Regions from separate parts of the Homo sapiens genome. Here region 1 is linked to region 2. Evidence: fine-mapped expression QTL. A gene starts in region 2. The other region holds a variant in brackets. All regions are shown on one strand. Distances are between the middles of the regions.

What was found.
Region 1: its variant is fine-mapped to the expression of ARHGAP6 in spleen (GTEx, PIP 0.98).

What each region holds. Positions count from the first base shown.
Region 1 is chrX:11,263,935-11,266,841 of GRCh38, reverse strand. The region is part of intron 1 of ARHGAP6 (Rho GTPase activating protein 6); the gene reads left to right. Among named protein-coding and RNA genes, the nearest start is that of AMELX, 28 kb to the left of the region's middle. The variant C/T (reference allele first, on the strand shown) is at 1,137.
Region 2 is chrX:11,664,185-11,667,091 of GRCh38, reverse strand. It overlaps ARHGAP6 (Rho GTPase activating protein 6), which reads left to right and starts at 1,172. Exons shown (of 13, transcript NM_013427.3): 1 at 1,172-2,851. The coding sequence starts at 2,264.

The sequences.
Region 1 (2,907 bases), 400 kb after region 2:
CAGTAAGATCTTCCATGAAATCATTTCCCGGTTTGTAAATTATAATCACAGTGATTCTTTTGTTGGAATTCACTTGAGACCCATGAGAGAACTATAACTTCCTATTGACTGGGAAACAAAGATGTCTTTTCGAGTTGTATTTGGTTCAGTGCCATGTGGAATGCATGGAGATCAAGGTAATTCGCGATTGGAATTAATCTTCCCTTTTCTCTCTGCTCTTCATGGATGCCACCCCCAACCCCCACCCCAACCTGAACCCTCTTAGATATGGCCATGTGGGTATATTCACTCTGACCTCCACACCCTCTGTTCAGGAAATGAACAACTTCTCAAGGACTGCTGTCCCACAAAGAGGATAAAATACAGAGCATGTGTTATGCTTCAGTGTGAAAGAGAATGAAAACTTTTGCTTTTTAGTGTGTGTGGCTAGTGTTAGAAAAATGGAGTCAGTAGTTTTAAAATATAATTTAAGAACTGAGAATTTGTCCTAAACAAAGAAGGCATCCTATGTGCTTTATCTTGCTCTCAGGGGTTTCACCAGTGGCTTCCAACATTCTTTGGTTGATTCCTAATAAGGACAGTTTGCACAGTTACAATCCAATTACCGTTTGTAGATCCCTGTGGAAAAGAGGATTTTTTTTAGAGGAATCCTTTTCTAACTCGAGTATATTTCTTCAAAATACTCTCATTCTTTTTGTCCCTTCCCTCCCCTCTTTCCTCCTCCCCAACTCTCTCTCTCTCTCACCCTCTCTCTCTCTCTCTCTCTCTCACACACACACACACACACACACACACACACACACACACAGGCACACACGCATACAAACACACGCACTCACTCATTTGTGCACTTACTCAGGGACACAGCCTGCCTCTGTTCTGAAAGGACAGGAACTTCTCAATGATCCGATGAAAAGATTGCATATTTTTGGTCCCAAGATTCACAGTAGCGGAGGTCTCTGGCAACAAAAGGTATCGTGGGAGTCACAGCTATGCCAGCTGGGCCATTTCTCAGACATTCAATATGATCTGCCATTTCAGGATGCATTTTTTACCAAAAAAATAATTTTTTTAAAACAGACTCAACTTCCTACTGCAAGCTTAGTTCAGTTAGATTAGAGAGGACAGCAAAGACG[C/T]GGCTGATTATAATTTATGGGTAAGCAATATAAATATCTATACTTACACTACTTTTTCAGAAAATAATTGTGATAAAGTTTTGTGATTCTTTCACATCCATCTTGTGATTTAGGAAGAAAACTGGAATGATCAGTGTCTGAGATGTGTGACAGCTAAAAACTGTCTGTGTCAATATGGATTTATGAGAACCTTATTTTTAGATTAATGATGTGGCAGCTTGAAATGAGCAAACTCAAGCAGGAAAGGATTGTGTCATGATTAACAGAACAGCATAATTGAGCTAATTTCTGTAAAAGATTCGGGCACAGGCTGTTTTGAAGTCTGAAAGGGTAAAGTGGTTTATCTTTCCCTCTTAACTTCTTGAATATGGGTGCAACATTTTAGTTGCTGTGGCTGTGATAAATATGGGTTTAGGGGAACAGTTTGGATATTAAATAAGGCTAATAATACATCGGATGTGCTTGTGCTGTCTTTTACAAAAGAGGAAACTTTAAGCCTCTGAATTTTTAAACACTGTCTGGCTTTCATTATTATAAGGGTATGTCTCATAATGAAAGGGCTTGGTGGTGGAAAGAGGGGAACATGACCCTGATGTCCCAGATCCCATTATGCCACTGCAGCTGCTTTGCTCATTTGTAAAGTTAGAGGTTTGGATTGGTTTATCATGAAATGTTATGAAATACATATAGTGGTTATGAGTCTAAATTCTAGAACCTAAAGCCTGGCTTCAAATCCTAACTCTGCCACTTAATTGGTGTGTGCTCTTGGCAAGTTACTTAAGTTCTGTGCCTCAGTTTCTTCATCTGAAATATGGGAATAATGATGGTAACATAGTCCTTAGGTTGTTGTAAGAATTAAATGAGATAATATAAATAAAAGGCTTAGAACAGTAACTAGCAGAGAGCGGACCATCTATAAATGTGAGCAGTATCTTCAAGGTCTAATCTATCTCCGGAGGTCGTTCTAATTTCAGTGAACTAAATTTAATTAGAGAAAGACAAGTAGAACCATCAGCTGCTGGCCCTGTCATTAAGAAATTTCTAATTCATGCCAGTGTTTCCAGTTTTTGCAACCCTGAGATTTGTGCAGGCCATCTTACCTTCTTCCTCCCATCCAAGACTCGAGAGAAGCTTAGAACTGAGAATTAAATTGATGGCCATTAGAAAAGTCCACAATTCAACTGGGACTACACAGAAATGAAATTGACCTTTTGCTCTGACGTTTTTGCCCTTGAGGACTTCCAGTATGTCCCCTCTATGCTAACCACTGGAAAGGTTCTTTCCACTGGAAACAAGATGTAAGTGACATTTGATTTTTTAGATGGTGTTAGCCCAGCCCTGGGTTTGACAATGTTCATTTCTACTTCTTTAGTTTATCGGTAACCCAGGTGAACAGGCCATTTGCAGATAACCACTTCTATTTCATGCTAGCATTTGCATATTTTCTAATATGCTAAATTATGTTGTTTGATTTTTTTTTTTACAGGCTCTCTGGGATGTTTCTCAGAGACAAAATCTTAGGAGAGGAGGAAAATGGTGATGGCAAAAGGCAGATCCTAATCATAGATGTGTCTTTACTTTTAGTCCAGTCCAGGGGTCAGCAAACTTTTTCCATAAAGGGCCAGATGGTTACCTTTACGGAAGGGCAGCTTCATGGACTGTGCAGTCTCTGTTGCAACAACTCAACTCTGCAATTGTGGCCTGTAGGCTGCCACAGAAAATAACAATGAATGAGTGTGGCTGTGGTTTTCATAAATCAATAAAACTTGAT
Region 2 (2,907 bases):
GAACTCTGTCTTCAGACAGCAGATAGCTCATTAAAGCTACCGGAAAAAAAATCTCTAAGGGTGCAGTCTGTTCGGCTGCGTTTACAAAAAACGAGTACAGCCAAGACCTGGGAGCCCGACGCCCTTTGTGGAGACAACGAATTCTCCTAATTAGATTTCATGACGTACCTCCTCCAAAATAGCTGAACACCTAGGAACACCAAACACGCTTTTCAAAGAGTCTAAGTAAATTAACTTTTCCCCTGAATATGTCATAGGGAATAAAGGAAGTCTTCCAGAATCAAACTTGGACAATTCTGGTAGATATGCAAGAGGAATGTTCGTGTCCAACATCTGTATTTATAATTTCATTGTATTTTTTCTCCAAAATAAAAGAAATGGTAGAGTCACCTTTACATTTATATAAAATTATCTTCATCCCTAAGTGATAAAAGAGGACACAAACACAAAGTAGACATTTCCAACATTCTGTCTGCTCCCTGCTGAGATGGTTGTAAGTTGCATTGCAAAGCTTAACTGTTACATCAAAAAGCCCTCCAAGAGGGCGAGGCTTTGCGCTTTATAGATTCCAGGGGTCCGACAGCGGGAGAAGCTGCTTTCAGACTCATCTCCTTGCCGGGAAGATTGATTTCCCCAGCGTTCTCCAGCTTCCCAGGACTGTGGCCACCGCGCTGAGACCCGAGGCGTCCCAGAGCGGGACGCGGAGACAGATCGCTTTGTGAGCGCCAATCTCTGCAGCCTCTGGGCTGAAGCTGCGCCCGGCGCCTGCCCCCTACCCGGCCTCACTCACCCCTCCTCCTAGAGCACGTTTCCGCACGTGCTCAGGACCCCTTCCACGGCAAAGGCTCCTCCCCCTCCACTTTCTTAGTAGGTCTCCATCTCCAGCTCATTCATCGGCAGCCACTGCTTTTAGACAGTTTCCTATCTATCCTTCCTTTTTAAAAACAAAAACAGCCGGGACAGGGCGGGGTGGGGGGGCGCGGGGAGAAAAGGCAGGAGATTTAACTCCAACTTCAGAGCAATCGTCCCCGGCTGCCCATCTGACACCAGTGGGTGGGGTGCAATCTGACACTTCCCTTCCTTTCCAGAAACGTGAGTGGAGCTGGCGCGACCCTTGATCTGGGGGTGGGGAGACGGGGGAGAAGGTCCGCACTTCCGTCCTCACGACTTTCTCCCCAGGAGACCCGGTATCAGTGGCGAGCTGCCTTCTCTCCTCGCCGCTTGCAGGTTTGGCGCCTGGAAAACTCTTCACGTTCTGCTTTCTCCTGCTCCTGGCTCCGCCCCAGCTCCAGCCCCGGCATTCCTCCAGCTCTACACGTCCTGGCCGCCCCCTTCCCGCTGCCTCTAGAGCGAGCGTACGGGGTCATCTCCGCGTCTGCCCTGGGCCCAAGGCTGGGCTGCGAATAGCGTGTTCCTCTCCGGCGGAACACACACACCCGGCCTTGGGGCTGTCTCCTGAGCTCCCTCCTCCACGGAGAGCGCTGAGCGCCGCCGGGAATTCCATCCCACCGTGGGCACGCAGTCTTTGGAGGTCCCGGGCGCAGCACGCTCGGTGTCCCCACACTGCAGCAAGACAGAGACCCCGCGGGAACCTTGAGCTTGGAACAACCCTTGAGCCTCTGCAGTCGGAAGAGTGGGCGCAGCAGCCCAGCGGAGGCCAGGCGCGCAACCTCGGGCGCCGGGGCAAGGAGAGAGTGCAGGGAGGCGCAGCTCAGGCGCCCGGCTCAGGAGCGGGAGGAAGTTCTCGCGGCGCCGGGAGCGCGGTGGACGCGCCCTGGGCGCACGCCCAGGCAGCCTTCTCCCTGGCCCTCGGGACTGTCCTCGGGCCGCAAGGAGGAGCTTGCTGGAGTCTTAGAGGCCATCCAGAGCCAGCGAGCAGGAGCGCTGCGTCTCCCGCCTCAGCTAGGAAGGGGGAGTGGCGCTGGCAGGCTGGAGCTGGGAACCCAGCGAGCGCCTGACCTTCCTCCTCCTCTTCCTGACCCTCTTCGCGTCTTGGGCTCCGGAGGAAGGTTCTAGCGGCTGCAGGAGGTCCCCAGACCCATTTTCCTAGAAGGCTGGTGATGGATCTGCTGCTCCTGCCGCCGCCGGGGCACTTGGAGCGCACCGGCGGCGCGTGAGCTGGGCTTTGCTCTCCACTGCCCTGGGCAAACCCCGGGCCAGCCCCGCCTGGCACCTTTGCCTGAGTCCCTTTCGGTTCCCGACCCAAAGCCACCAGCGTCCAGGGAGGGAGGAGGAGGTGGTCCTCAGGTGCAGCCCCGCCGAGATGTCCGCGCAGAGCCTGCTCCACAGCGTCTTCTCCTGTTCCTCGCCCGCTTCAAGTAGCGCGGCCTCGGCCAAGGGCTTCTCCAAGAGGAAGCTGCGCCAGACCCGCAGCCTGGACCCGGCCCTGATCGGCGGCTGCGGGAGCGACGAGGCGGGCGCGGAGGGCAGTGCGCGGGGAGCCACGGCGGGCCGCCTCTACTCCCCATCACTCCCAGCCGAGAGTCTCGGCCCTCGCTTGGCGTCCTCTTCCCGGGGTCCGCCCCCCAGGGCCACCAGGCTACCGCCTCCTGGACCTCTTTGCTCGTCCTTCTCCACACCCAGCACCCCGCAGGAGAAGTCACCATCCGGCAGCTTTCACTTTGACTATGAGGTTCCCCTGGGTCGCGGCGGCCTCAAGAAGAGCATGGCCTGGGACCTGCCTTCTGTCCTGGCCGGGCCAGCCAGTAGCCGAAGCGCTTCCAGCATCCTCTGTTCATCCGGGGGAGGCCCCAATGGCATCTTCGCTTCTCCTAGGAGGTGGCTCCAGCAGAGGAAGTTCCAGTCCCCACCCGACAGTCGCGGGCACCCCTACGTCGTGTGGAAATCCGAGGTAGGGACCAGCGCTGCGCGTCCCACGGCCCAAGGAGGAGGCCCCCAGGCAGTTTC